Linked DNA regions of Homo sapiens: all the other regions are linked to region 1. Evidence: fine-mapped expression QTL. A gene starts in region 1. Each other region holds a variant in brackets. All regions are shown on one strand. Distances are from middle to middle.

Evidence for each region. PIP is the estimated chance that this variant, and not a neighbour inherited with it, causes the effect.
Region 2: its variant is fine-mapped to the expression of MBOAT2 in whole blood (INTERVAL, PIP above 0.99).
Region 3: its variant is fine-mapped to the expression of MBOAT2 in whole blood (TOPMed, PIP 0.99).
Region 4: its variant is fine-mapped to the expression of MBOAT2 in T cells (TOPMed, PIP above 0.99).
Region 5: its variant is fine-mapped to the expression of MBOAT2 in visceral fat (GTEx, PIP above 0.99).

The regions. Positions count from the first base shown.
Region 1 is chr2:9,001,240-9,007,731 of GRCh38, forward strand. MBOAT2 (membrane bound glycerophospholipid O-acyltransferase 2) reads right to left here and starts at 2,445. Exons shown (of 13, transcript NM_138799.4): 1 at 2,301-2,445. The coding sequence starts at 2,375. It overlaps LOC124907728 (a long non-coding RNA gene), which reads left to right and starts at 2,837. Exons shown (of 2, transcript XR_007086199.1): 1 at 2,837-2,889; 2 at 4,230-6,492. RefSeq lists an enhancer at 1,102-1,756 and silencers at 1,521-1,815, 2,359-2,818.
Region 2 is chr2:8,881,771-8,886,770 of GRCh38, forward strand. MBOAT2 (membrane bound glycerophospholipid O-acyltransferase 2) reads right to left here. Exons shown (of 13, transcript NM_138799.4): 6 at 741-795. Among named protein-coding and RNA genes, the nearest start is that of KIDINS220, 47 kb to the left of the region's middle. The variant T/TA (reference allele first, on the strand shown) is at 2,715.
Region 3 is chr2:8,852,072-8,858,563 of GRCh38, forward strand. It overlaps MBOAT2 (membrane bound glycerophospholipid O-acyltransferase 2), which reads right to left. Exons shown (of 13, transcript NM_138799.4): 13 at 619-6,492. Among named protein-coding and RNA genes, the nearest start is that of KIDINS220, 18 kb to the left of the region's middle. RefSeq lists an enhancer at 2,847-3,398 and a silencer at 2,988-3,282. The variant G/A (reference allele first, on the strand shown) is at 4,122.
Region 4 is chr2:9,047,497-9,053,988 of GRCh38, forward strand. No RefSeq gene overlaps it. Among named protein-coding and RNA genes, the nearest start is that of MBOAT2, 47 kb to the left of the region's middle. The variant A/G (reference allele first, on the strand shown) is at 3,073.
Region 5 is chr2:9,084,541-9,091,032 of GRCh38, forward strand. No RefSeq gene overlaps it. Among named protein-coding and RNA genes, the nearest start is that of MBOAT2, 84 kb to the left of the region's middle. The variant G/T (reference allele first, on the strand shown) is at 3,093.

The DNA.
Region 1 (6,492 bases):
AGTATAGTAAATACATAAACCAGTGATGCACTTAGGATTATCAAATATTACGTACTGTACCTAATTGTGTAGTATACACAATGTGCTAGACTTTTATAGGACTGGCAGCACAGTAGGTTTGGACTGGCAGCACATTAGGTTTGTTTACACTGGCATCACCACAAACACATGAGTAATGCGTGGTGCTACGACATGACAATGACTACAGCTTTACTAGGCAATAGGAATTGTTCAGCTCCATCATAATCTTACGAGACCACCAGCAGACATGTGGTCTGATGACCAAAATGTCACTATGCAGTGCACGACTGTGCTATACAAAGTCAGGGCTACACATGGCTGTACAAATTTAGAGTAGTCCCAAGGTACCAACTTAAGACCTTTAGCTAATAAAGAAGGATGTCAAAAATTTTAAGTCCTGTCACTTTCCCTTGATTCTCCTGCTTACTTCAGTACTGAAAAGAACTTTCTCTGGATGCTTAAATGCGTTCATTAATAGCAAATCACTTTAAAAAGTTATAAGCATTATATAAATGAATAGGTATTATTAGCATAGTCAAGAAAATATTTCAGCATAGCAGGGACGGGTAGGGCTATGGCAGACATGGAGCGGGAGGGAAAGAAAGATGGGGGAGAGAAAAAGGGAACGTGAACATGTGCCCATCTCTCTGAAAGAAATGTAAATATATAAACCTATCTCCCTTGCTCCTCATCAGCAAAGAACTTTTCAACAGACACCCACCCTGCATTTGCTGATATACTGGAAGTAGCCTATTTAAGGCAGGAGTGTGATATGCTAAAAGGTCATACACTGCACACCAGTGTGGAAATGTCAGCAAGAATCCTCCGCGGGGCCGGGAGGATGAAAAACCCTAAATTCTGGTCAATTTATTAATAAAGAGAGAAGAATATTTTCTTCGAATACACGATTAATTTCACTACCATACTTTATTAGCAAGACACCCATTAGAACTCTTGTTCAAGACAGGTGGGGGATAGGTACTTTACTATTAACCAGAAGTTATGACCGCGATGTGGAATTTCAACAGAAGCCACAATTGTTTAACACTCCTTCGACATACTTAAGGCGATTTTATTTAAAACAGTAAAGCACAAAGCAGCTAGTATCCTAATGTCAGGTTTCCAGCTTGCTGCTATGGAAAGCCGTCTGGACAAGAAGGAATCCCGTATTGAAGTGAAATCCCTGAAGACTAAATGACAGCAGCACCTTCAAGTTCAAGACAGTGAACCAGTATCCCGTGTGAAGTCCAAACACTTCCAGGTTAAGTACACTTGAAATAACTGTAAGCAAAATTTCCAAAGTTAACTACCTTTAGCCTGGGGCTAGAGCAATCACCTAACTATACACCCCCGCCCCCCAGCCCCCGCCTCATTAACAACTTCCCTAAATCTCACTGTCACAACAAAATACTTCCAAACTTTCTTTTCTCAGTAAAAATGGCGCTGCTTTTCCCATCACAATGCTGTTTATTTCTCAGTAATCGTTAGGCCCTTTAAACCATCAAACTCGATTGGCCTCATTTAAATACCACCCTTCCCTAGACACTGTCAAGAGCTTTTCTGAGGGCTGGGCAAGGAGGTAAAGTGGCTGCATCAATCTACAAGGTTGCCACTTTGTCAGCAAGAATCCTGGGATTAACTCCGACTTTTCTTCATAACCTGTCTGCCTTCCCACAAACTGTTGCCTCTGTCTCTCTTAAGCCACAATCCAACGCAAACTGTCCCCAAAGTGCAGTAGCGCTTAAGCCTCTCCGGGCCCCTAGCACCCATCGACGCCGTCTCTAAGGCACCCAGCACACCCAGACCCATGCATCAGCCTCTCCGGGGGTCGCTCAGAGGCGCGCGCGGGGCAGGCAGCACCACGCCAGGCTCCCCAAAGCGCAGCCTTCCGCACCCTTTCCACAACCCGGTCCATGCGCACCGGGGGCTGCTCCGGGACCCGACCACCGGATCCGAGCGCCGCTGCCGCGAAGGGCAGGGACCGCATGCACACCCGCACGCCCATACGACCACCCTCCCCGGGGGCTGTCGCCGGCAACAACGCCCGGCCCACCTCCCGCTCGGCCCGGGGATGGCGGGCTGGGGGCGCACCCAGGAGGGAGGGGGCTCTGGGACAATAACCGGCTTGTTGCCCCCTCCCTTCCAGGGAGCGGCGGGTAGGGGGGCACCGGGCGCCCGGCCCCAGCCCCCACCCTCCTCCCGGGCCCCCGGTCGGGTGGCACCGCGGCGGGGAGGGGCGGCGAGGGCGCGACGCCCGGCGCCAGGGCGCCTCGGGGTACCTGGTCGATGGGCAGCTGCACGGCGTTGCTGAGGGGCTGCAGCAGGGTGGAGCCCGTGGTGCTGGTGGTGGCCATGGCCGGGCCTCGGCGCTCCGGCCGCCCGCGCCGCTCGCCCGCTCGCGCTGTGCCGGGCGACGACGAGGATGGGGATGCAGCGGCGCGCCCGCCCCTGGGCCGCCCGCGGTCGGAGCTCTGCGCGGGGAAGGCCGGGGAGGGGCCGGGGGCGGTGCCCGGCTCGCACCTCCCCCTCCGCCGCCACCTCCTCCCGCGCCCGCCGCCCCCGACCGCCCTGCACAGGCGCGGCCCGTCCTGCCGTCGCCCCCGTCGTCCCCGCCCCGGCGCCCCAGCCGCATCCCCCGCCCCCGACTTCCAGCAGCTTCCAGCGGCCCCCTCCCCACCTCGCGCGCTCTCGCTCCAGACAGCTGCGCGACCCAATCGCGGCGCGACGCCCTGACGCCCGCAGCCAATCAGAGAGCGCCGGCCGCGCCACGCCCCTCCCCCGTGCCGAGGACCCGGGCGAGGGCGCCGAGGCGCGGCCCGGGCCGTCGCCGGAGAACGGCTGGCCAGCGTCGTGGGGCGCGCTCCTCGGGTGAGAGCATGGAAGAGCGTCTTTGCCCCTCACTCCTCGGTTTCTCCTCCCTGGAATGTCGCGGCCCCCCACCCCTCTCTGGGAGAGACGGCAGACAACAAAGGGGCCCGGGGTGGCGGCCGGAGGGACGATGTGAGGGACGCCGCCGAGCCAGCGCCAGGGGAAGTTGGGGACGAAGGTGGGGGCTGGGAGGACGACAAACCAAAACAGCGACCTGGCTGAGAAGCCCCTTTGTCTGGGAGAGTGCCGGGTGAAAGCCCAAAGCTGAGAGCAGCCCCGGGGTCTGACGCTTTCGTCACCCTGCAGCCGCACCCGGGCCTTTGGGTGGTGAGAGCTGGGCCTGGGTTCGACGCCCGCGGGCGCAGGGAGACCGGCTCCCCTTTGCTGTGTGAAAGTTTAGTTCTTTGTAGCCAGCCGCCCTCGTTGAAGGCCCCACCTTCTTCCTGAGAAAGTTTCTAAGCATCCCTTCACCCCTTGAGCGCAGGCACCCCCAGACTGTTGAAGTCCGCCAGGTTTACATACCCTGGCGGGTCACGTGTATATATAATCCCCCCAACTTCGTAAAAGTAAGCCATTTGAGTTCCTTTAAAATGCAAACGTCAACTTCTGTTCAGAAGACTTTAAAAGAGGAGAAATGCCACAGCAGTTATGAGGACAAATCAAGACTCAAGGATTTGGCAGTTTAACTTTGGTAGAAATAACTAATGTTTACTGAGAGTTTAACCACAGCTTTAATACTTTTGGTATTTAATCCTCACAATAACCGTGTGAAATAGACACTTTTACACACCCTCCTTCAAGGAAGTTGAGTCACAGAAGAGGTAACTTGCCCAGGGGCACACAGCTGGTAAGTAGATTGGAATCCAAGTAAATCTACATTTAGAGCCGACCTTATCACTAGGCCTTCATCTCTCTCACACTTAACACCCATTCCAGAAACTCCCGTCAGCTATCAGTTATACCATTGGGTTGATGACTAGCTTAGAGTCTTGAATAAGAAGGCAGCACAGATAAAAATACACCTGCCTTAGTAATCAGTCTGTGGGCTTACGTTTGTCTCTCTGAAAAGGAGGCAGTGGAACTCATCAGTGCAATCCCGTCTTGCCTAGAATCCTTTCACTGGTCGACTCAATCCTAGTTTGGTGGATTCTCAGCTGAAATGGAATAGAGGATAAAAGGAAGAGTAAAAAGAACAGGACCTTCATTCCCCCAGGGGAGTGTTCCAGTGGGATTTGTAATCAATTAGAGAGCTGCTTATTACAGTATATTAATCCAAAAACCCAGACCTATTAATATTATATTAGAAAGAAACCATTTTTTTTTCCTTTTCTTCACTTTAGAAAAGTAGAGGAAGCGCACAGGTGGCTGAGCATACAAACTGAAGAAAAAATTGAAATGCCATTTTAAAAACTTGAAAGGTGGGTGTTGGGAACATATTGCAACCTAAAGTAAGCAGCATGGAGATACAATCTCAGAGCTAGAACAAATAATGTCTGCAGAAAGGAGTTTCCTTAAGCTAAATTTTTATTTTAGTCAGACATGACAGAACATAATCTGTATTTGGGGTAACTACATGAAATTATTTAATATCTAGAATGGTTGAGCGCTGTGGCTCATGCCTGTAATCCCAGCAGTGAGCTGTGATCGCACCACTGCACCCCAGCCTGGATGACAGAGTGAGACCCTGTCTCAAAAAAATAAATAGGCCAGGCATGGTGGCTCACGCCTGTAATCCCAGCACTTCTGGGAGGCCAAGTTTGGTGGATCATTTGAGATCAGGAGTTCCAGACCAGCCAACATGGTGAAACCCCGTCTCTACTAAAAATACAAAAAAAATTAGCCGGGCATGGTGGCAGGCACCTGTAGTCCCAGCTACTCAGGAGGCTGAGGCTGGAGAATTGCTTGAACCCAGAAGGAGGAGGTTGCAGTGAGCCGTGATCACACCACTGCACTCCAGCCTGGGTGACAGAGTGAGACTTTGTCTCAAAAAATATAAAGAAATAAATTATATATATATATAGAGAGAGAGAGAGAGAGAGAGAGAATAGGGAAGATTTTAGCCATCTGGGAAAATTTTGCTGTGTCAGAGTTACAAAACTATAGGTAAAATATAGTATAGTAGTAATAATAGCTTAGATTTTGGAATCAAACACACCTAGTCTCTTCCATTTATTAGCAGCAAGATATTGGGCAAGTTATTTAACCTTTCTAAGTCTCCATTTCCTCATGTAAAAATGAGCGTAATAATGGCACCAACTCCATAGTTTATGAGGTTATAAAGGTGTACTTATATGAAGAGCTCAGAACAGTGCTTGGTGCATGATAAAACTTAAGAAAGATTATATTAGAGTTCTCCAGAGAAACACAACCAATAGGAGATAGATATGGTTTTGCTTCTCTGGAGAACTCTAGATAGAATAGATAGATAGATAGATAGATAGATAGATAGATAGATAGATAATAAATAGATATGGAAATAGATAGACAGAAGTTTATTATGAGAGATTGGGTTGAGATTATGAAGGCTGAGAAGTCCCACGATCATCTGCCATCTGTAAGCTAAAGGCCGAGGAAAGCCAGTAGTGTAGGTCCAGTCCAAGCCCAAAGGCCTGAGAAACACAGGAGCCAACAGTGTAGTTCAGTTTATGTCCAAAAGCCTGAGAACCAGGAGCAATGATATCCGAGGGCAGGAGATGATGGATGTCCCTGTTCAGAGTGAATTCACCCTTCCTCCACCTTTTTGTTCTATTTGGGCCCTCAGCAGATGTGATGACGCCGGGGTACGTGGGTGAGAAAATCTTTACTCAATGTACCAATTCGAATGCTGATCTCTGCAGGAAACATGCTCAAATACACATTGAGAAATAATGTTTCAATAGCTCTATCTGGGCACCTTTTAGCCCAGTCAAGCTGACACATAATATTAATCCAAGAAATTTAGTATAATTCTGAAAATGGAAACCATTTGTTTCGTATTAAATATACTACCTCTTCATGTTTTTAATGAAGAATTGAAGCTGGCATTTTAAGCTGATAACTCATTGATGGTAGCATAAACTGTGTGCAGGCCATACAATTAGCCTGACCAGTATCTGCTAATTATACCAGAAGCTCTTCAGTGGAGACAAAAGAGAAAAGAATTAAACTAATTGTATATAATGCCTCACTGCCCTACCTTGGGTAACATCCATCCTATAAAGAGCAATTCTTGTGTTAAAACATTTATTGACCACTTACTATGTTCAAGGAGCTATGTGGGGTGACGTAAAGGATAAATGATGCCTGTAATCAAAAGAAGAAAACAGTCGTATTCACAAATTCACATGTTACAAGAAAAGTATCAAGGAAGTTTCTTTTTTTAATGTTAAAATCAAAGGAATATGTCTGTAAGAAAGAAGCTTAGCTTGAAGTTAAAAGACCTGAATTTTAACCCTAACTTTTCCACCAGATAGCTATGAACTTTAGAAATTGGCTTAGCTTCTCTGTGCCTTAAGTTTCCCATTGTTAAATATGAATAATGGTAACTGTTCATCCTACCTCATAGGAGTGTTGTGACTATGAGCATGAACTTAATCATAGACTCAATTATTTTTAAAGTTACTA
Region 2 (5,000 bases), 120 kb before region 1:
AGACATGCTACTTGGGATGAAAGATGAATACTTAGTGTAGTTCTAAATAATATCACAAACAATCTCATTCTTCTAGCAGCTATGCACTTATTCATTCTAGATTTGGAAACAACGTAATCTGTGGGAAATTTTTCTTTAAGTATAATGAGTATTCCATCTCAAATTATATTAGTTGAGATAGACACTGTGAAATTAAGCCATTCCTTAGATTAGTCATCAGAGTGCCTTTAATAAATGAAGTAGAAGCTTATCCCAGAATGAATTCCTCAAATAATAATGAGAATTATCTGACTGGTTCTTTATTATTTCAAAATATGGCATCGATGTGCTATATTAATGTATTATATCTTAGCCCAGTACCTGCCATCAAGTTATTGGCCTGTAAATGGTAGCTGCTATTATTACCAGTAATTACTACATGGCAGACATGAAGACAATACTATCCTCCTGTCTTCAAGGAACTCAGAGTCTCATAGGGATGAAAACTTTAGCAGCTAACCTCGTGGCCCATAGGAGGCGCAAATGTACAATCGCAGAGGCAGGGTGCTACAGGAGCCCTAGAAGGGATGCCCAGGCCTGCCCAGCAGGCTTTGGCAGGAGGGAAGTGCATGGAGAGAGTGAGGCTTGATTTTCAGAAGTAAGTACCTCTAGAAGGACTAGTCAGCCTCAGCCACAGAAGGAACGTGGGTCCTAGGCAGGGGCGCAGGAAGCATGGCAGAATAGGATGCAAAGGCACGTACCTTACAGCTAAATCCCTCTGTGAGGAAGTCAGTTCTTCATCCTTCCGAAACATCCCTGAGAAACAAAAATAGGTACTCATCAATTAAGATTTCTCCCCAAAATGGCATTTTTGCCCATGCACACTTTCATTACTTTCCTCATTTGAAATTCATGCTATTATATTCCTAATTTTGATATAATGACTGTTCCTTTCCTTCTCATGGCAACACAGCCTCGATCATGTGAAAAGTCTCTATAAAATAACACATGGTTGGGTATCTGACTCCACTCTAAGGGGAGTTATAATTAAAGAATTCCCAAATGCTGGCACTTTAAAAATTATAATGTTATTATCCTTAATCGTAAATGCTATGACTTTTCGAAAAGGGGCATTACAATTTTTCTATTATGGGATGACTTAAATGACTACACATGAGTACTATAAACTAGAAGATCAACCTAAAGCAAAGAGCAATTTCCTTACTCCTCCATGACTCCAATGCATGAAAACCAAACTCAAATACATCATCTTCATCCATCTATTTACGTTTCTCTTCAAAGAGGAGGATATATTATTTAAGATTACACATCAATTTACTAGATCCATATGCTTTAAAAATATATACCTCAAATCCAATTTAAAGACCAAAGGGGAATGAAATTAAAAAGCAAATAGCAACATTAATATTAATAAATTAATAAACTAATATTAGTAAAGTAGTAATATTCCCCCAAAGAACCAAAGCTAAAGCAATTAAAAAACAGTGAAATAAATAGACAAAACTAAAAACATGAAAAGACAAATCGTAGAATACATGTAGCCAACTAACGTGAAATGTTAATTTCACGATTAATAATGTTTTCATTATAAATCATTACATGTACATTAAAAGAGCAAGATGCCATTTTCACCTATTACAAGTATGCAGAAATTTTAAAGGGCTCTTACTCATATAATACAATCTAAATTATGTAAAACACACATTTTATGTATTTTATATGTATATAAAACAAAGATGAGAAGAAAATAATTACTGTCTTAAAATGCCTCAGGAACTATTCTATGCACTGAGGAAAGAGCAGACGAAAAACAAACTCCCTGCTTTTATAGCACTTATATTCTAGTAGGGAGACAGAAGATAAACAAATAAATGAGGTACCAAGAGGAACTCACATCATCTTGCTGTAAACCAGTATAGCAAACACTTTAGAAATCTTTCTACCTTCTATTCCTACAACTCTAGCCCTAAGGAAATAACTGAAGGTGTGATTCAAGATTTATGACAAGGATCATCACAACTTTATACGTAATAGCAGAAAAAAAGTAACAACCTATATATGCAACAATTGGGGAATGGGAATATATTACACATTCCACTTTTGACAATTATGTAAAAAGAAAACCATGCCTCATAAGATGATAAAGGAAATATTAATAAAAAAGAAGGGGCCAGGTGCAGAGTGGCTCACGCTTGTAATCCCAGTACTTTGGGAGGCCAAGGCGGGTGGATCACCTGAGGCCAGGAGTTTGAGACCAGCCTGGCCAACATGGTGAAACCTTGTCTTTACTAAAAAAAAAAAAAAAGAAAAAAAAAATTAGTTGGGTGTGGCGGCGGGCGCCTATAATCCCAACTACTCAGGAGGCTGAGGCAGGAGAATCACTTGAATCTGGGAAGTGGAGGTTTCAGTGAGCCAAGACTCAGCCAAAAAAAAAAAAAAAAAAAAAAAAAGTCTGGCTCTGAGAAATGTTGGGGGAGGGACATGGAAGATTATTTTTTCTTCGTATTTCCAATTTGTATTTTTCAAATTTTCCTCAATGATCACATACCTACTTTTTATAATCAGGAGGAAAAAAACACTTAAAAAAAAAGATGATCGAAGATTAGAGAACGGTAAAACATTATCAGGATTTAAACCCCAAAAAAGGGTAATTCCTACTTGTGACAATTCTACTTTCTTCCCCCATATCAGATATATGTTGTCCACCTTTTCCT[T/TA]AAAAAAAAAAAAAAAGAGCCATCTTTAGAAATGAGGATAAGTATTCAATTTTTAAAAACTCCTTATCCTTTTTTCCCTCATGCTTTTACCAGGCAAGTGACATGTTAATAGCCTTCTTTGTGATTTCAAGCTTTGCCATACATAAACTATGTCATTATATTTAGTCAGCATTTCCAAGTGTTTGGCATAGGGTGGGCCTCTACACCAGTTCAGTCTGCCATGTTGCTCAGAGAAGCGATTACTGCTTTCGAAGTGTAAACTAACCAAGAAAAGTAGACACAGAGCTTAAAGGATAGAGTTGCATAGAACAAACTTGTGTCAAAAGTCTACACGCACAACAAACCCAGCCTTCCTTCTCAGTTCAAAACTTGGGAACTGGCCAAAAGAATCAACAAAAACCAATTAAAGACAAGATATCATTTTTTAAAGCTAGAAGTCTAACCAAGTCCAAGTGAGGCAGTGCAGCAAACAATGGGGTATGACAAGACTTCTGAGCCCTGGCATGACACCACATTGCAGGTGGAGACTGAAAGCCTGCCACTGCTGCTGTGTCTAACAGCTGATACGGGTAGTCCAGTGATTCTACTCTGCTGCTTAGTTACCCTGAACATACCATTTTTTCACTGAATTAATGGAATGGCGTATCTTCCACTGTTTAGTACTTATGTATGAATAGGTAAAAGAAAATGATTGCTTATCATTTTCATGTAAATTCGGAGTCAGGAATCATGGCGATGCCAAACAACCACTGATTATCTCCATGGGTGGCTGCGATAGTGGCACCTTTGGTTTCTGATGGTTCAATGTACACACATTTTGTTTTATGCACAAAATTATTAAAAATAATGTATAAATTACCTTCAGTCTATGTGTATAAGGTATATATAAAACAAATTAATTCTGTGTTTAGACTTGGGTCCCAAGATATCTCATTACATGTATGCAAATATTCCAAAACCCGAATAAATCCAAAATCGGAAACACTTTTCTCAAGTATTTCATATACGAGATATTCAACCTGTACAAACATTCTGTTAGGTTCAAGTATTCCTATTGTGAGGTGACATCAATGAAGCTGCCAGCAAGACAACCAGCTACACTATCCCTAAAGGCCACAGTACAAGCCAGACTTCATGAGCAAACATGCCAGCAGGTTATTTTAGTCATTCATCCTAAGCCCTCAGCAATCTCATATACATGATTCAAAGCCAGAAAGGCAAGCAGGCTCTATTATATGAGGGTGATGAAATGTCTTAAAAACCATGCCTAGAAATACCCAAAGATAAAATAACACCTGCTTCCTGAAGATGCAAATATGAATGATGCCACTGGATTGATAGTTGAAAAACAGACACAGCTGTAGGTAATTTATTTGGTTTCATCTAGGGGTGGTCCTGAACCAGGCTGTGCAGAAACAAGTTAACATAGTTCTGAGAATGCTATCCTTAGAAAGGCCTGCTTATGAGGTGTGCCCACGGCTGGTGTATGAGAACTTGGCTGGTCCACAGTCCCCTACACCGATAGGAAATGTCCCCTATGTCTAGCCTATTTGTGCCAACAATGTGGTTTATTCTGAACACCTGCTTTCCTTCTGGGAGCCTGGAATTTTGGTGTGCGCTAGGCAGCGGGGGCCTATGTGACCAGCCCCCAGTAAAAACTTTGGGTGCTGAGCGTCTAAAGAGCTTCCCTGATGGACACTTCACAGGTGTTGTCACAATCTGTTGCTGGGGGAAATAAGTCCGTTCTCTGTGACTCCCCTGGGAGAGGACTTCTGGAAACTTGTGCCTGGTTTCTTCCAGACTTCATTACAGGCACCTTTGTACTTTATTGACTTTGCTTGGAATCTTTTCACTGTAATAAATGTTAGCCTTGAATTCAACTACATGCTCAGTCCTGTGAATCACCAAACTGGGAGTGGTCTTGGGGTCCCCCAATACACAGATAATAAGGCCCTTCTCTGAAAGATTAGCTGAGAAAATATGGCTTAGACAGGGTTCAATCTATCCCTTGGGAATAAAGGGGTAGGTGGTATGGGATGTGGCAGGCCTGCAGCAAACTGTCTCAGAGGATGTACTGAAGCAAACTGGAAGAGGAACCTAGTTTGAAAAGTTAAAGTGTATGAACTCCTCAAATGCTGCCAAGACTAATCACAATCTAAACTGTTCTAAAGAGATAATTACCATTAAATCCATTTAAAAGAACAGGTTACAAAATGGGGTTTGTTGTTCTTCTGAGTTGAATATATATATTGTCATCAGATACTTCTAGATCTATGGACAAAATTA
Region 3 (6,492 bases), 150 kb before region 1:
TTCAACATGGTCTTGAACCTCAAAATGGGGTAACTTAAATCTGGCATGAAATTCTAAGGTCTTCCAGAGAGAAAGCACTAGGAATGGACCTGTGAGTTTGCTCAGCCTAGCATCTCTATACAAGCGTAAAACAGAAGACGTTTCCCTACAATTGTTCACAACGGCATAAAGGAAGAGCCCCCAGGCACGCTCTGAAGTTCTTCTAGGTCTGTGATGACACAGAAATCTAGCAGAGTCCCAGCGCTCTGCTTCCCAGTAGCCACACCCGTCCTCCCACAGGAGTGCTGCGAACCAGCTAACTGCAGGGCCTGGGAGGTGGGCGTTCCCTTTCAGCTGAGCAAAGTCAGTATCTTCTTCACTTGACAAGTCTGTTGTAGGAGAGAATACAGATACTATACACTAAGTTAAGGTTGTTTTAATTACCTTCCAAAGTGCTTATGACAATAGTTTCTTTTAAATAATCTTTAAGCAGTTAAAGAGTCAATGACTCTTCAGAATATTATCACCATATTACTAAAGAATCCTTCAATAAAAATGACCATTAACTCTCGTAACAGGGCCAGTATTGTTCTATAAGTGGAATTAAAAGCCTAAGATATTAGCAAACACACACACGCATATTTTTAAACTACTGTTTAATCAGTTGTAAAGACACACAAATTAGAAAAAAAAAACATGTCCTAAACATGTTACATGTAAGTTAAAAACACCTTTAAAAACCAGCAATAAGCCACCAGTGCAGCTCTGACAGACTAGAAATGAGTGGTTATGAAATGAGCACATCTCAGTTTGACTGACACAGTGGGAGTTTTAATTTACCGTACATCAGGAACTAATTTATGAATCTGTTGAAAAATAACACTTCTTTAAAAAAATATTTTGGAATAATAAAAACAGAAAGCACAGAACACCACATTCTATTCTCAACTTGGGAAGGCAAATGTAAATACTAAATTCTGGCTGCTGGAGTTGGGTCTCTCCTCATGTTTGGGCGACTGAGGGCTCAACTACTACTAGGCAGAGATCAAGACAACGTTTAAAGGAAGGCAGGAATGAAATCACACATTTTCACTCTGTATATGGAAGAATTTCTCACTTCACCTGAATGATTTACTTTCATTCCTATGGCCTTCTATCGTGCCCCTTCTGGTTCAGAGGAGCAGTCACATAAAAGTGACAAGATGGACAAGACTGGTTTGGAACACATTTGTGTTCAATGTTTGATTCCTTTTTCCTTGTGATAAAGCCAGAGGCAAATGTACTTCATTGATAAATCTGTGTGCGCAGAACCAAAAATACATAAAATTGGGAAAGAGGCATATTTAAAAAGTCTGTCAAACTCTCAACATATATTTTCGTCCTTTAATGCAAAAGGACAGGGGGGAATATTCAAATTGATTTCCCAAGAAAATTAACCTAAAATAGTGAACGTGAAACAGCTAAGACTCTGGTGAAAGGCAGTCAGTCACCTTTCCCATTTCAAACATGTTACTAAGAAACTGCCTAGTCATTTTACTTATGTTGCTCTGTAACTTTTGGTTTTTCACTGTAGCATTTCCATTTATTTTTAGTGTGTGATTTGATAAAACATGGCTGGAGATGGCTATGAATCGCTGAGTAAGCTTCAGACAGCGGTTCTGCATGGGTCATCACACTATAATTTACAGAACATACAGTCTTAGTGTTGTATTTTTTCTTTATAAAAGTTGTACTTAAAGAAGAGTTATAATCAGTTTTAAAGGCAAGACAAATTAGTTGGTGTAAAAACTGTGTATTTAGGCTGTGTTTCACAAAATTTCCCAGTCAATGGCCTATGGAACGTGTCAGTTCTTTATTGGGATTTGCATAATGTTAAAAAACCTATTAAAATAAATATTATTTTAAAACATACAAAAACATTATTCAGCAGCCTACCAATTAAAATGTAATTGGCTGCAACCTCTGTACAAGAAAAGCCTCAAAAAGCAGCTTAAGCATTGATTATAAGAGCTTTCCTACAAAATACCGATGTGGAAAATTTCATTTTAAAATTTCTGTTGTAATCAGAGTTTCTATAAATAGATTTGACTACTTGGTGTTGCAGAAAAACACTGTAGAGACCCTCTATGTTCTAATCTTTCAAACTCAAATTTCAGGGTGTATTTCTCTCCTTAAATGCAAATCTTTTGCTTCAGCATTGGGAGCACGCGTTCATCAAGAAACCCACTTTTACAAGGGCTGGAGAAAACAGAAATTTCAGCATCTAAGATGAGTGTATCAACGACCAGCCACTCATTAAATGCACACTGGGTTAAATGCAGCAGTTTTATAAGGTATTGAGGGCAGTTAAGATTACATCTCACAGTGTTATTTAGGATTCTGCACCTATATTAAATTTCAGCCAGGAAGAACTATTAACGCCTGGATAAAACTCCACAAAATACTAGCTTATATCTAAAACTCTGGACAAATTTTTAGCTGACACAGATATAGTAGGCACTATTCTGAAACAATTATTTTCTCAAGTAATTTTTCTTTCAATTATAATGTAGAACTGTTAAGACCAATTAACTAATAATTGTGAACAGTTGATAAGGAAACAAAAAAAGTATAAATGTCCAGATTTGTTCATGAATATACAAACTAAATACTTACAAGGTATGAACTTTAAATAGGAGAGATTTTTGTCCTAAAACTGTGATCTAGTCCTTGAGTAAAAGTATAAATTTATAATTATTTTAATGGCAAAAATTTTAAAGCTATTGTTTTCTGCGGTTTAAAATAAGGTGTAACTAAACTAAATATGCTTTAAATATCCTTGAATAACTTTGAGATGTTATATAGTGGTAAACCCTGTCCAGTAGTCAGTAATCTGTATAAAATATTTCAGAGCATATATCTTCTCCAATTCCACACAGCACAGAAACCAACAAAGCAGAGAGAGCAAAAGGAAAACATGTTTTCTTCAGCAGAGACTATTTCATTATGAAACACTCATTGTAAGAGCTATTGCCAGTAGAAAAAGTATGTTGCCATGCCTTCTGATTTAAGGGATTCAGAGGTTTCACTGTTATCATGACAACCTTTTGAAATGTCAGGGCTTTGAGCTCAAGTAGTAAGTCAATGACCATGACAATAGTGTGGACTGTGAATGTGCCCAAGTCCTTGAATCCTACAGACCTTGCTAATGGCTCCGTTCACGACACCCAACTGGTCCTGAACTCTTAGGATTAACCCGTTTGCTTATGGCTGAGGAACTTGGGGTCTACAGGACAGGTGGCTCCTCCAAGTCTTAAGTCTCATGAAAGGCAGAACCAGAATGAAGATCCAGGTCTCCTCCTAGGTCAGCTAGTGCTTAAATGTGAGTTACTGTCACTTTCTAGAAACCTCCTTTTTACTGCACATTTTTCTCAAAAGTGGTATGTTTGGAAATCCTGTGTGTGTCACACATGGTGGAGACCAATAAATATATTTTTGAAGCAAATGGGCAGTAGTGGCTAATAAGAGAAGTGGTCACCAGACATTTTTGAAGCCAAATAAATCTTCTCTATCCTGCCGGATATTTTAGAAGCTAAATAAATTCCCCCAATTACCCTGAGTTCCAATAAAAATACTTACTTTAAGAACAGAATGAGCCACTTATAAAATGGTGACAGCTGAGGCATACCAAATTATACTCTTACTGTTTCAAGAAAATGAAATTGAAGGATGAGTAGTTATTTTTGTTCATTTTTTCCCTGAGTAGTATATAATTAACCAAAAGTATAAATATGATGTTGATTGATCATCTCTAGAGTGATTTCATGATACCTGAATAGTGGAAAATATAAAACATAAATATGCATTGAATCTTATTCTATTGATTAAAAAAAAGCAAGCACATAATACAACGAATCCCCTTTCTATTTAACAGGAGTAGACGTACCAGTTTAAAATTCTTCTACTGTAAGTACTAGAAGCAAAATATTAATCTTTGTGATTATTACTTCTCCAAACTAGAGGAGAGATATCCAAAAACCATTTCATGAAAATAACTAGTTGATTCAGGGGTATGAAAATCAGTCAAACTGGATATGGAATTATTATCTTCGAAGGAACCAGAAAACCAATCAAATATCTTGCTTTCTAGATGACAGTGCCAA[G/A]ATCATATTCACTGAGCAAGAAACAGGTAACAGTGACTAAGGTTTACAGGCTGAGAAATAAATTCAGGTAACAGAAATGTGATTATTTGTAGGTGGCTAGATAGGCTGAACCAAAAAAAAACACACACACACACACACACACACACACGAACAAAACCCAACAAGTTTGTATTAAGCCTTCTTGTTTTCACTTATGACATGCCTGAACCTGTCTTTTAAATTCTTAATTTGTTCACTTTCTCTTAATAGCAGTCGGATTCTCTGCAACATTAATGAAAATGATCAAACATTTTACAGGGCAGGTACATTCCATGAACATTCTTTCTATTCTCTCACATTAAACAGCTGGCATAATTTCTTTTTTCTTTTTTTTTTTTTGTGAGACGGAGTCTTCCTCTGTCACCCAGGCTGGAGTGCAGTGGCACAATTTTAGCTCACTGCAACCTCCACCTCCCAGGTTCAAGCAATTCTCCTGCCTCAGCCTCCCAAGTAGCTGGGATTACAGGTGTGCGCCACCATGCCCGTCTAATTTTTGTGTTTTCAGTAGAGACGGGGATTCACCACGTTGGCCAGGCTGGTCTCCAACTCCTGACCTCAAGTGATCCGCCCACCTCGGCCTCCCAAAGTGCTAGGATTACAGGTGTGAGCCACCATGCTCAGCCAACATAATTTCAATGCATGGGAAAACAGAGGAAATTTATTTAGTTATCAATCCTTTCCTGGGTAGGGTTAGCCTTATCAGCCGGAAAACACTTACTTTTAGATAAATAAAAATAGATTAGGATATTTCTAAACTTCAAAAAAGACACATGCCCATTTTTGCTGAGACCTCAAAAGCTGCAAGTGCATTTGCTTTTCCTTTCTTCTTTAAATGAAGTATTATATAGCATAAGCCAGATGGTTGCCTTGTCTTTAACTTCATTTGCAAATTTATTAGTGACTCCACCCCCCGAAAAAAAGAGAGAGAGAACCCCATCACAGAAAATTTGCATTTCATTAAAAATTTAAGGCAAAAAGTAAAAGTAAGTTCCATACATAGGTCAAACAAAGGTGAAGTCAGAAGGCTTTGCCCCCTCCCCTCCTACAGGGCAGGAGGTACAATCTGGGGCTGAGGCCACTCCACTGCCTGGCATCAAATCCCACTCTTCTGCTTTCAGCTCCTGTGGCCACCACAGTCCTCTGTGGGATCGCAGGAGATGCTTAGTAATCCAAGGCAAGATTAGTTGTGGTAAAAATGGCCCATAAAATAAAAGCACATTTTTCCACTTACAGAACCTAAAACTCATTTTAGTAAGAGTTCACAGCAAAATTTTAATGTGAGAAGAGTTTGAAACTGAATTTATATTATTCTTAAAAAATGTCACCCAGACTCAGTGACTTTTATTTTTCATTTCCCTAAAAGTTTCCCAAATATGAATTAAATTGTCAAGGATAAGAAATGGATTAGCCAGATAGTAACCTACCTAGCGATTTCTCTTTCAAAACCTTTGAGCAACCTACCAGTATTATTTTCAAAGCCTCTAATTCTACATAATTTATGCCTGATAAATTTAATTTAGAAGTCCAAAGTATCACGAAGTCATTCAACTTTTTTTTTAAGTCTCACATGACGGCGCAGAGCCCTGGCATGGGGGGGAAGCTGCCTGCAGAGTCGCGGCTGTGCCCCGTGCATTCCACCGGAGGCCACGCAGTGCTTCTTCATTCCTGCCTTCCTTCGTCACCTCTCTCTTTTAAGAAAAAGAATAAGCTTAAAATATCACATTACCAAACCTCTCATTATGTTTTAAGAGATTCCTTCTGGAAGCGCTCTTTGACTGCACAAGGTAATTAAACTCTCCAGCAAAATCAGCTACCTATAATTTGGCGTCCATTACTGTTTACAGTTTCACTATGGATTGTAGTCATTTGACATACTTTAAGAAAACCCTTCAAATACTGAGATGTTTATTGCATTTTAAAAATATCCACACTCTTAAATATCCTGTTTCAAATTCCTCCTAAAATCCTTTACAGCACACAACATCAACTACTGCAGTAGCGTTCTCACAATATTACACTTGAAAATACCATTTAGGAACAATATTTTAGGAAATAGAGGGTTTAAGGCAAGACATTCATTTGGAAAAGTTAATTTCTCTCTATCATCCAGATTGACACGATTATTTTTCCACCTCTTCAGTGCCTTGGGATACGCAACATACATTCAGCAACAGGGCACGCGTGTGACCCTACGGACAAGTGCTGAGGTTGGGAGTGCCCACTGAAATATGGAAATATTCTTACATAAGGCGTGGCCCACGGAGACATGGCATGGGAGGGCTTGTTTCACTCCATTTCCAATCTGGTGTACAGGAAATTCCTTATCTATAAC
Region 4 (6,492 bases), 46 kb after region 1:
CAGGCTTGTTAATTGTGGCCAATCTGATGGTTAGGAAATAGTGTCTCACTATTGTTCTAATTTCTACTTCCCTGCAACAACAAGGTCCTTTACTAACTCCTCTTAAATTACCAAGCTGGAACATACTCAGGACCCTGATGTAGGATACTTTACTAAATTTTGTTTTAATGATTGTTTAGAACTCAGAACACATTATTATTACAATTAAACCTAGAGACACTATAAATAGTGGTCACCATTCCAGACTAGCCCACAAACACTGAATTACCTTAAGGTGTAGACTGGGGTCCCCAACCCCCAACCCCCAAGCCACGGACGGATACTGATCCGTGGGCTGTTAGGAACCAGGCCACACAGCAAGAGGCCACACAGCGCGGGCCAGCGAGCATTACTGCCTGAGCTCCGTCTCCTGTCAGATCAGTGGCAGCCTTAGAGTCTCATAAGAGCACATACCCTACTGTGAACTGTGCATGTGAGGGACCTGGGTTGCGCGTTCCTTATAAGAATCTAACTAATGCCCCGATATGAGGCAGAACAGTTTCATCCCGCAACCATCCCGCAGCCCCTGGAAAAATTATCTTCCATGAAATCGGTCCCTGGTGCCAAAACGGTTGGGGACCACTGCCATAGAGGGATGAGAGATCTCGAGACTAACAGCACAGCAGTCAGAGGAGGGCTGGCCTCAAACTCAAGACTGAGTCTCAGCTCCCACCCTGTCAGTACTCATCAGTTACCTCTCTGAATCTATTTTCTCAACTATGAAATGGGGATAATAACATACATTCTCCCTCACAGGGCATTGCAAAGATAAAGTGAGATGTGAAAATCCATTAAAACTCTGTATGGTATATCCACACAATGGAGCACTATGCAGCTATAAAAAATAAGGAATATATCTGAACTGATATGGAATCATTTCTACGGCATGTTGTTAAGCAAAATAATAATAATAATAAAAGAACAAAGGAGTACATATATTGGTATCTTTTGTGTATGAAAGACATACAGATATAGATGTTAGACATATATATATATATATATATATATATATATATATATATATTAGCTTATTTTTGTGAAAAGAATATCTCTTTGTATAGTATGGACTTCCAGAACCACATTAATGTTTACATACACCAAAATTAAATAAAATTAAATTAAACTATGTCAATAAGATGGAGGAGGGGAAGTCCTAAGATGTAACACAAACAGAAACAAATGAACTCAATGGTATTTAAAATAGAGAGCGTGACTACAGTAAAAGGGAGGGGAACTAACACAAATAACTTTGTTTTTAAAAAATAAACTCACCCTGAGGAACTTTTTAACACAGTATTTCGACTACAAGGAAAAAGCCTATTGCAAGCAAATCTTGAACTGTATTTAAGTAGGGCTTATTTTAGCAGTGTTGTGGGCTAGCAATTCTAAACAACTTGCTATGTATGTAGGAGTGAACAAATGAGTACACGTATTGATGACGTTGAGAAGGAAAATATTAATACATAATGGTAAAAGGCTAAGAAGAGCCTTGCGGTGTTGAATTGGAATTCATGGTTTCTAAATACTGTATAGATATAATTACATTTGTGAATATTTGTGTGTATTCTCTAGTTTTTTCTGCTGAAACGGCCTAGAAACAATGATACCCAAAAGCAATAAACATGCCTAGCACCCAGATGTCAGATTCTATATACTGTTTCCCAGTAAAAAGAAGCAGCACTTCTCCAAAAAAAAAAAAAAAAAAAAGCCAATTATAAGAGTGGGGCAGGGAAAATGTACTATGAGCCTGGAATGCTTTGTTATGCCATAACAAATAAAAAAGTACTCAAAAAAAAAAGGATACATTCAAAGGACATGGGGAACAGCTTGCAGAAGCTCTCACTGATCAAAGTCTGGGGAAACGTGAGCGTCAAGATCAATAATAATAATAATGGATTATAACCCGTTGGGTAAAATAAGAATCCGTTAATCCACACTGATTAAACAAAAATAAGTACACAAGAGAATGGAAGAATGGAAAGATCTTCTAGTATAATTAATAAGTTTAGAGAGAATGCTGAACTTGGTTGCCATTTTGCAACTATCATACCAATAATTGATTTAGGCAAGAATCATCAGTGAGTGCTCAAACTAGTTGTGGGTGTCTCACCACACACCACCACCTTTGAGAAAACACGTACGAGGAGCTACACAATCTAGGGTTCATCGCCTCAACTTGGTAAGGTGGCTACAATTGCGGTTATCCCCATTTTACAGTTTAGGACACTGAAATGTAGAGATGAAGCAACGAAGGCCACATGTTCTGGAGACAGGATTCAAATCGAGTTGACCACAGCCAGAGTTGTCTCTCTTCCCGCGTAGACTAGGGATCCTAGTGACTCCAGCTGCCAGGCAGCCTGGCTCTCTGGTGTCCCAAACTCTAGGGGGAAGAGATGTGTGGGTGAGAGTCCAACCTGTGGGATGGGGACACAGTGTGGCTTTGGGGGCCTGCATCACAAAAGCAGCTAGGCAGAGGCATGAGGTGTGATATGGTTGGGGCCACAGCTGTTCATGTAGGCCGGTGCACAGTTGTCTTATTCTACATCCATCTCTCCTCATTCCAGCTCAAGCCTCTCGCTTTTTCTTTAAAAGTAATGTTCGGGGAGGAGGATGTTACCTGAATTAGCCAGATATTCATCTCATCTCTTCGTTTCTTTTGGCCCACGTAAACACAGACCCAAAGTACTCCAGTCAGCGGAAATCTTGTAGATCTTGCTTGCAAAAGTGGCCGCTAAGACCAGGGCTGAGCCCTTGCATTATCTGTGCATATCAGGGCCTATTTACAAAGGGCCTCCGAGTCAGCTGTTGGATGTTATCTCTGACTAGGTTATATAAATAGCTACGAGATGCACTGACAGGATTAAAAGAAGTTTTCCATCACGCCACTTCTGTTGTTAAGTGCAAACATTTAAAGTCTACTACCATTTTTATAATCATGTTTCCCAACTATAACTATTTAATTAATTTATTTATTTGTGGTACATCAGGAACCTCAAAAAATGGATGTGATTCAGGGACTCTGTCTCTCTCTGG[A/G]AAGTCCCTATTTGTATGTGTGTTTCCTGCTTTTGAGTGTGATTCCTTTGAGGTTACATGAGGTCACATGACGGTCAATAGATCTTGTTGAATAAAATAAAGATGCTGTTAATTTCTCAATCAACAGAGCACCAGTTTTATTTTATTTTATTAACTTTTACTTTAGATTCAGGGAGTAAACATGCAGGTTTGTTACATGGGTATGTTGTGTGATGCTGAGGTTTGGACCACGATTGAACTTGTCACCCAGGTAGTGAATATAGTACCCAACCAGTAGTTTTGAAGCCCCTGCCTCCTCTCCCACCCCTCTTACATTCCCCAGTGTCCATGGATCCCATCTTTATGTCCATGTGCACCCAAGGTTTAGCTCCCACTTCTAAGTGAGAACATGTGGTATTTGGTTTTCTGTTTCTGCATTAGTTTGCTTAGGATAATCGCCTCCAGCTTGCATCCATGGTGCTGCAAAGGACGTGATTTTGATCTTTTTTATGACTGCGTAGTATTTCATGGTGTATATGTACCACACTTTATTTATTCAGTCCATCACTGATGGCCACGTGGGTTGATTCCATGTCTTTGCTATTGCAAATCACCAATTTTCTTTTTTCCTGGTTTCGAAATTATCTTATTGCTTTACGTGCTACCTTATTTACCTGAATTTAAACCGGTAGTTTTATTCAGAGACTGCTTATTTAAATGGTATTATAAGTATCGAGTTAAATATCAAAAGCAATTATTAAATATTCTGTTAACAGAATGCTCCTTGTTCCTACTGAGTAGTTTTATGTTTTTCTGTTGGAAAAAAAATTAAAGGAATGTCATCTCAGAGAGTGAAACAATCCATCACAGTAATTAACACAGGAGGGTAGGCACACATGGAATAATCATACCCTGGAGTTCAATGTAGGAGAAGGACAGTGTGGCATTCCAGGTGATGATTGCACACCATAAGGACTACCCATCCCTCTGATGCCACATTAAGTCAACACGTCTGAAATTTCTAAAATATTCAGTATTACAGGATGAAATTTGGACAAATCCATAAGATCTGTGCACTTCTGTATTTATTTATTTATTTATTTATTTATTTATTTATTTATTTTTTGTGATGGAGTCTCACTCTGCCGCCTAGGCTGAAGTGCAGTGGCGCAATCTCAGCTCACTGCAACTTCTGCCTCCCGGGTTCAAGCAATTCTCTGCCTCAGCCTCCCGAGTAGCTGGGATTACAGGTGCCCACCACCATGCCTGGCTAATTCTTGTATTTTTAGTAGAGATGGGGTTTCACCATCTTGGCCAGGCTGGTCTTGAACTCCTGACCTCATGATCCACCCACCTCAGCCTCCCAAAGTGCTGGGATTACAGGGAGCCACGGCGCCCAGCCGCACTTCTATAATTTTAAATGTATTTGCTATCAACTGTCCGCATCCCAGCAACTCCCAAATACTTACATTTTATCGGGTGCTGAGGAGAAATTAAACCAAATTAGATGTGTTTTCACTCTTTCCCCTAAGCTTGAATATATAGACATAGTATCAACAATGTCCCCTTTGTAGCAAATTATTGCTTTTATCTTTTTATTACTAGGCAACAAATTATTTACTTAATTAGGAGGTAAGTTAGAAACCCAAAAAGCATCCTTTTTTTGAGACAGGATCTTGCTCTGTGTCACCATTACGGCTCACTGGAGCTTCGACTGCCCAGGCTCAGGCGATCCTCCCGCCTCAGCCTCCCAAGTACCTGGGACCACAGGCGTGCACCACCACACTCAGCTAATTTCTGTGTTTTTTGTAGAGACGGGGTTTCACCTGGTTACCCAGGCTGGTCTCAAACTCCCCGACTCAAGCAATCCACCCGTCTCAGCCTCCCAAAATGCTGGGATTACAGACGTAAGCCACTGCACCTGGCCCCAAAAGTCACCTTTAAAATAAAAATTTTAGAAGCACTTTTTGAGATCTGTAATATACCAGGTACATTTTTAATGAAAACCTTATGAAGTAAAATTCCCATTTTACAGAAGAGGAAAATGACATTCAGTGAAATTATTTACAGAGTTTTATAGTGAATAAATGACAGAAGTGGCATTTAAACCCAAGTCATTTTGCATTTCCTATGACATTGCCCTTCAGAGCTTTCTCTCACTCCCCACCCCTCCAGATGCCTTCCCAGATGGCAGCATGTTGACAGACATTGCTTCTGTGACTCCCCAGAGTCCCAGAGAGAAAGATGGAGATGACATTATGCATCGGGGGTTCCAGAAGCAGAGTGTGGGAACTATGAAGTATCTTCTCTGTTTCTCTGAAAGTTCTCACCTGGGTTAGAAGCTGATTTTCCTTAGAGCCCGGTTTGCTTCCTGGTATGCAGTGAGCTTAGTTGGGCTGATGTTGTCTGTAGGTGAGGCCTCCCACTGGTGGGGTAAGTTTATTTCAGAGGAATGATAGCATTTCCTCTTGCCACAAACCTAGGTCACACCCTCATTCTGGTTTTTTGCAGCATTCAAGTTGTTATCTCCATCAGGCTGGGTTCTGTGTCTGTATCTCAGCTGAACTCAAATTCTAGAAGAAAGCATATTCTGGAGCAAGCTGTGTATCTATCCCCTCTAAAGTATCAACAGGTGTGGGGCTTTGCTGGTTTCACAGAACACGTGCAACTGAAGACTGGACTCTTGAATGCTCTCCCTCTCTGTCAGCTCAGTACTTTCTCACCATCGGTCACCTGAAGACCAAGTTCCAAACACTCTGGGCTCTGCACAAGGCTCCATGTGACCTGTTTGTGCCGCAGTCAGCTATGAGGCCTGCAAGGGCGGATCCCTTTGTGTATCCGTGTTGCCAGTACCTGGCACTTGCAATGTGCTCAATAAACATGGATTTAGTGAATGAGTGTAAGGGTTAGCTTCACTTCTCAGAGCAAAAGGGGAATCTCCTATTTGGGTGTAATTTTTGCAAGTGACCTGGCAGCAGTAGTGAATGAGAAAGTGTTTCTGCTTCTCCTTTAGAACACAAGCAAAACATGTGGTTTCTGAGCCCATGGATCTTATAATTTTATTCATACACAGAAAAAAAGCAATAATGATTCATGAATGTGTAGGACAAATGCCAAATAAATTGGACAAACAGGAAAGGCCACAGATAATCCAAAGAAGAGTAATCACTGTGAAGGAGAGTTTTGAAATAAGTGGGTTTTGAAAGACAGCTGGGGTTTAAAAAGGGAACAAACAGTGAAGGTAAGACTGAAATGCGCAAAGCTGTGGTTGGTAGGGGAATGAGCCGGGTGGGTTTACAAATACAGAGGCCAGCAGGCTGGTCAGAGAAAGGTTTTAATTAAGAAGCAATAAGGAATAAGGTTCAGAAAGTGAATAAAGGCTGGGTTAGATAGAGCTCTGAACAGTTCTTAGGAGTCTAAACTTGGTTTTACAAGAAATGA
Region 5 (6,492 bases), 83 kb after region 1:
CCATATTCTAGGAATGCGGTAATCATGGCATAAGGTAATCAAGAGAAGACATGGCTGCAAAACCTTAGACAGTAAGTTTAAGATGACCAGAAAACATTTTCCCGCACACTCTGGGCGAGACTTGCATTTGTGGTCATCATAAACGAATTATGGTGACAGCCTTTAGGGAGACATTGGAAGCCAATATTCACCAGGGCCATGATGGAGGATGCGGTGTCCTAGTAATGATGCACCTAGCGTGAAACAAATGACATCAGGGAACTCCAGAGGCAAGTTGATCTATAGTTTCAATATTAACAGGTCCCAAAAAGCCACAGCATTGAGAGCAATAACAGCGTTGCTACTTTTTCCTCATAATGAGAAATGTGAAACTACCCAGCCAAGGCACATCTGACAATAAAGAACTTGACACGATGGCTCCTGGACCTGAGCAGGAAGAGATGGTGGCCAGACATTACGAAGACTCCTCACGTGCCCTAACTGCAGGATTCACAAAGACAAGCCTCTCTTTTCTACCAATGATTCTAAATCTTTGTTGATAAATCATTAAAAGTTATATGGCCCATGAAACTTGTAATACATCTTTAATCAAGTTGTTTATAAACAGGGCCATGCAAAAATATGTTTGAGATCTAGATGGGTCCAGTTCAGATGAATGGAATCTTTTTTTTTTTTTTTTTTTTTGAGACAGGCTCTCGCTCTGTTGCCCAGGCTGGAGGGCAGTGGCACGATCGTGACTCACTGCAGCCTCTACCTCCCAGGCCCAAGCAATCCACCCACCTCAACCTCCCAAGTATCTGGGACTACAAGCCTGAGCTACTGCACCAGGACAGCTTTTTTAAATTTGCTTTTTTGTAGAGATGGGGTTTCACTATGTTGCCCAGGCTGGTCTCAAACTCCTGGGCTCAAGCAATCCAACAGTGGCCGAGACAAAATACACAGAAGTTTACTGACCATGGCTGTGACTATATTCTGTTCCTCCTCATGACCAACAAGAGATTTCAGGCTAAGTGGATGTCAGCAATGAAATGCTAGGCATTGCATTATGCAATTTAGCTCCCTGGGATTTGTTAGCCAGCTAAGGGAATGAATGAACTTCTAATATGTAAGAGCTACCCACAGTGACATGGCATCTATATCTCATTAAATATGTTGAGTAAAAACTCAGAACGAACTCAAACTAGGATATGAGAGAAAAACAAAAGTAATCTCAGTATTTTGTTAGAAACTACCCAGGAGTTCAAATGTTTTGTCCCTTATGATGTCAGGTGCAATTAGAAAGCTCCTTCCTCTGGATAACGATGCTTTTGGAAGGAGACCTATGCCTTTCCACCCCCTCTTTTTCTTCTTAACTGTTAAGTTCTGTACAAGGGAATCTAGTTTTAGTTCTATTTCTGGCCATGCTACAGTATATCCATGTTTAAAAGCCTTACTTATTTTAGGTAAAAATAACAATTCCACATTAAATAAAGTAGACTTTACAACTGTAGATATACTTAAATTCGGGCACACATGGTTACTGCTAATACCTAAAGAATTAACTATCCATATTAGAAAATTCTGCAGTCTTTATATCCTCTTACAATGGAGGTGGAGTAGAAATTAATATAAATAAAACTGTGAATAATTTATCCAGAAGATTCACTTTTCAATTCACTGACCTTAGATTTTAACTACAATGTCTGCATAGATGTTAGCTGTGTTATCTAATCAACAAATCATGCTGGAGGAAGTGCTTTTTCAGTGACTTTTACTATCAGTATGGGACAGTAAGATGTACATCAAAGACGAACAAGAAACCAGGGCCCCTCTAAAGATTGTTTTATTTTAAAAAGTAAAACAAAACACACAATAACATTTGGCCAAGCACTGTGGTTCATGCCTGTAATCCCAGAACTTTAGGAGGCCAAGGGGGCACAGATCACTTGAGCCCAGGAGTTTGACACCAGCCTGGGCAACATGGTGAAACACTGTTCCTACAGAAATACAAAAATTAGCCGGGCATGGTAGCATGTGCCTGTGGTCCCAGATACTTGGGAGGCTGAGGTCGGGGAATCACTTGAGCCCAGGAGGCAGAGGTTCCAGTGAGCCGAGATTGCGCCACTGCATTCCAGCCTGGGTGACAGAGAGAGATCCTGTCTCAAGAAAATAAGTAAATAAATACAGACAACACAATAGCATTAAAGTAAAATTTTAGTCAGCAGTCCTAACCTCACTATCCTAATACCATAACGATTTTCCCCACTGTATATGTCTTCCATTCTTTGCCGTGTATAAACACTTCCACGTTGGTGCCATCATATGGTACTTAGATGTTTGCAGTCTGCCTTCAAAATTTTATATCACAAAATACTTAACTCACACTCTTAAAAATGATAAAGTGATAAACTATCCTTTTTTTTAAGACATTCTCTTTTGGCTGGATATTTTAATTACACATAAGCTCAGGAACCAGCTGTGATTAACTCTTGCCGACTGGTTTCATTAAGATTCAAGAACTGCTGATTCACATCCAAAAGTGCATTCACTGTGATCAAATCCACGGGACAGAAGTCTGTTGATGTGCTAATTAATAAGACACACAGTTCTTTTTTCAGCTGCTTCATCTTCGAGTACTTTTCCAAACATTCCTTTTGGAAACTAATGTGTCCTTTAACTTTTTTTTTCTCTGTGCCGCTTAATGAGGTCTTGGTTACAATCTGATTCAAGGGAGCCACGCTCTACAATGCTCTTCTATAAACACAGTCATTTGAAAGGTGATTAGTGGCTGGGCAACCCTGGCCACAGCCCCCAGGTCAGCCGGATGTTCTTCTCCCTCTTGGGGCCCTGATGGAGCCAACAATTCTAAACAGTTTTCTAACATGGTGATTGGACTATTTAGAATGTACTTTCATCTTTAGTGGGAAGAGATACGCTAAAATACTTGAGATTCCAAAGTATACTCATAGGAATTGAGAAGAGGGAGGAATTAATACACTTGACATTTTGCAAAATATAAAATTGAGAATGAAGACGATTTATGATAACTCATAGCAAATGCTATTTAAATCCAGCATTCCATTCAAGCCCAGCTAATAAGCAGCCCTGTGCCA[G/T]AGGATATGTGATAGAAAACATATTTGTCTGGATTAATTTTAATCCCAGTTCCACCACTATCTAAATGACCTTAGCAGCTAATAACATGGAACATTTATCAAGCCTCCAGTATGGGCCAGTCACTGAACAAAGTGCTTATTTATGAAACATATTTATTCTCACAACCTACAAAGTGGAGATTATTATAATCCCCATTCTACAAAAAAATAAAAAATAAAAAGGAGGCCTAGGAAAATTATATAACTTCTCCACCATTATGAAGCTGTAAGTGGCAAGGTCAAAAAATTTTAACTTTAAATTAAAATATAACATGTATAGAGAAAAATGTGCATACTTTCAATGTACAGTTTGGTGAGTTGTCACAAAGTGAATACACTCGTGTAACCACTCATGTAACCCCAGAAGCTGTGCTCACGGCCCTTTCCACAACTACCCATCACTCCTTCCCAAAGGTAACCATTATCCTGGCTTCTAACACCACATCTTGGTTTCGCCAATTTTTAAGCTTTCATGCAAATGAGAATCATACAAAATGTGGCCTTTTGTGTCTGGCTTCTTCTACTTATGGAATGGATTCTTATGTGTGGTGTAAGGTAGTGACCAGGTTTCATTGTATTTTACCCATCACCGTTTGTTGAAAAGCCATCCTGTCTCCCGCTGCTCTGCTGTGGTGCTTTTGACACCAATCAAGTGTTCCTGTATGTGTGGGTCTTGTGGACTTTCTGTTTTGTTCTGATCATCTATTTGCCTCTCCTGTGTCAATACCACCTTGAAGTCTTTCCGAAGGCTTGGCATCCAGTTGAGAAATCCTTTCAATTTTGTTCTTTTTCAAAAATTGCTTGGTTATTTGAGACCTTTTGCATTATCATATAACTTTTAGAATCAACTTTGCATTTTTGCAAAATACCTACTGGATTTTTATTGAGATTGCATTGCATTGGAATAGATCAATTTGAGAACTGACATCTTGAGATAATTGAACTTTTAGTCCACAAACATCTCTCCATTTATTTAGGTCTTCTTTTATATTTTTATTATTTATTTACTTAGAGACAGAGTCTTACTCTGTTGCCCAGGCTGGAGTGCAGTGGCAATATCTCAGTTCACTGCAACCTCTACCTCTTGGGTTCAAGAGATTCTCGTGCCTCAGCCTCCTGAGTAGCTAGGATTACAGGGGTTCACCACCACGCCCAGCTAATTTTTGTATTTTCAGTAGAGAGAGGGTTTCCCCATGTTGGCCAGTCTGGTCTCGAATTCCCGACCTCAGGTGATCTGCCCGCTTTGGCCTCCCAAAGTGCTGGGATTACAGGCGTGAGCCACCCTGCAGGCTTTCTTTTATATTTTTAATAATGTTTTGTCGTTTTCAGCATAGAATTCTTGAAGATGTTTGTTAGATTTATTTCTAACAAAATTATTTGTTAGGTAAGATGTTTAAGTTTTATCTTTTAAAATGTAATTCATAATTGTAGTTTTATACAACTGATTTTTGTTAATTGGCTGTTTCCAACAACTTTGCTAAATTCACTTTTTTTTTTTTTAGATGGAGTCTCGCTCTGTCACCCAGGCTGGAGTGCAGTGGCGCAATCTCGGCTCACTGCAACCTCTGCCTCCTGGGTTCAAGCAATTCTCATGTCTCAGCCTCCTGAGTAGCTGGGATTACAGATGCCCACCACCAAATCTGGCTTATTTTTGTATTTTTAGTACAGATGGGGTTTCACCATGTTGCCCAGGCTGGTCTCAAACTCCTGACCTCAGGTGATCCACCCGCTTTGGCCTCCCGAAGTGCTGGGATTACAGGTGTGAGCCACTGCTCCCAGCCTAAATTCACTTATTAAATCTAATAGTTTATCTGTCTCTGTCTTATTCTGTTCTTAGAAGAAACATTTACAAAAATTCACCTTTATACACGTGCTGTGGATTTTAAAAATAAATACATTTTTATTGGATTAAGGAAGTTCCCTTCTATTACCAGTGCTAAGAATTGTTTTATTAATGCATGTTGCATTTTATCACATGCTGTTCCCACATTTATTGAGAAAACTGTGTTTTTCTTCTTTATTCCATTAATGTGGTAAAGAATTATTCAATGATGCTGGGCGCTGTGACTCCCACCTGTAATCCCGGCACTTTGAGAGGCCAAGGCAGGTGGATCACGTGGTCTGAAGTTCAAGACCAGCCTGGCCAAGATGGTGAAACCCTGTCTCTACTCAAAACACAAAAATTAGCCGGGCGGGGTGGCAGGCGCCTGTAATCCCAGCTACTTGAGAGGCTGAGGCAGGAGAATTGCTTAAACCCGGGCGACAGAGGTTGCAGTGAGCCAAGGCCTCACCACTGCACTGCAGCCTAGGCAACAGAGTGAGACTCTGCCTCAAAAAACAAAAGAAAAAGAAAATAGAACTATTCAATGATGAATCAACTTTGCTTTCCTGGAATAAATCCAATTTGGTTGTGATGTATTCTGTTTTTTACATAATACTTTATTTTGGTTTGCTAATATTTTACTTAGGATCTTTGCATTTATCTCTTTGAATTAAATGGGTCTCTAATTTTCCTTTCTTGTAATGTTTTTATCAAATTTGGGAATCAGGTTCTTCTGGTGTCATAGAAATCTTGAGGAATCTTTTCTCTGTTTTCTAAGAGTTATGTAAAATTGATGATATTTCTTTCATAAATGTTTAGTAGCATTCACTTAAGAAGCCATCTGGATCTGGATTATTCTTTATGGGAAGGTTTTTATTTTTTTATTTTATTTTATTTTTTTGAGATGGAGTCTCGCTCTGTCACCCAGGCTGGAGTGCAGTGGCACGATCTTGGCTCACTGCAACCTTTGCCTCCTGGGTTCAAGTGATTCTTCTGCCTCAGCCTCCTGAGTAGCTGGGACTACAGGTGCGCACCACCACACCGAGCTAATTTTTGTATTTTTAGTTGAGATGGGGCTTCTCCACATTGGCCAGGCTGGTTTCGAACTCCTGACCTCGTGATCCACCTGCCTCAGCCTCCCAAAGTGCTGGGATTATAGGCGTGAGCCACTGCGCCTGGCCATGGGAAGGTTTTTAAATGCTGTATTTAATTATTAAGATTTTCTATTTATTCTTGTGTCCATTCTGGTAACTTTTACTTTTCTAGGAATTTATACATTTCATCAAAACTTCCAAATTTACTGGCATAAAGTTGCTAATAATGTCCTCTTATTTTTTTTAATTTTAATTTTTTTTCTTTTTTTGAGATGGAGTCTTGCTCTGTCGCCCAGGCTGGAATGCAGTGGCATGATCTCGGCTCACTGCAAGCTCCACCTCCCGGGTTCAGGCCATTCTCCTGCCTCAGTCTCCCAAGTAGCTGAGACTATAGGCGCCCACCACCACGCCCACCTAATTTTTTGTATTTTTAGTAGAGACGGGG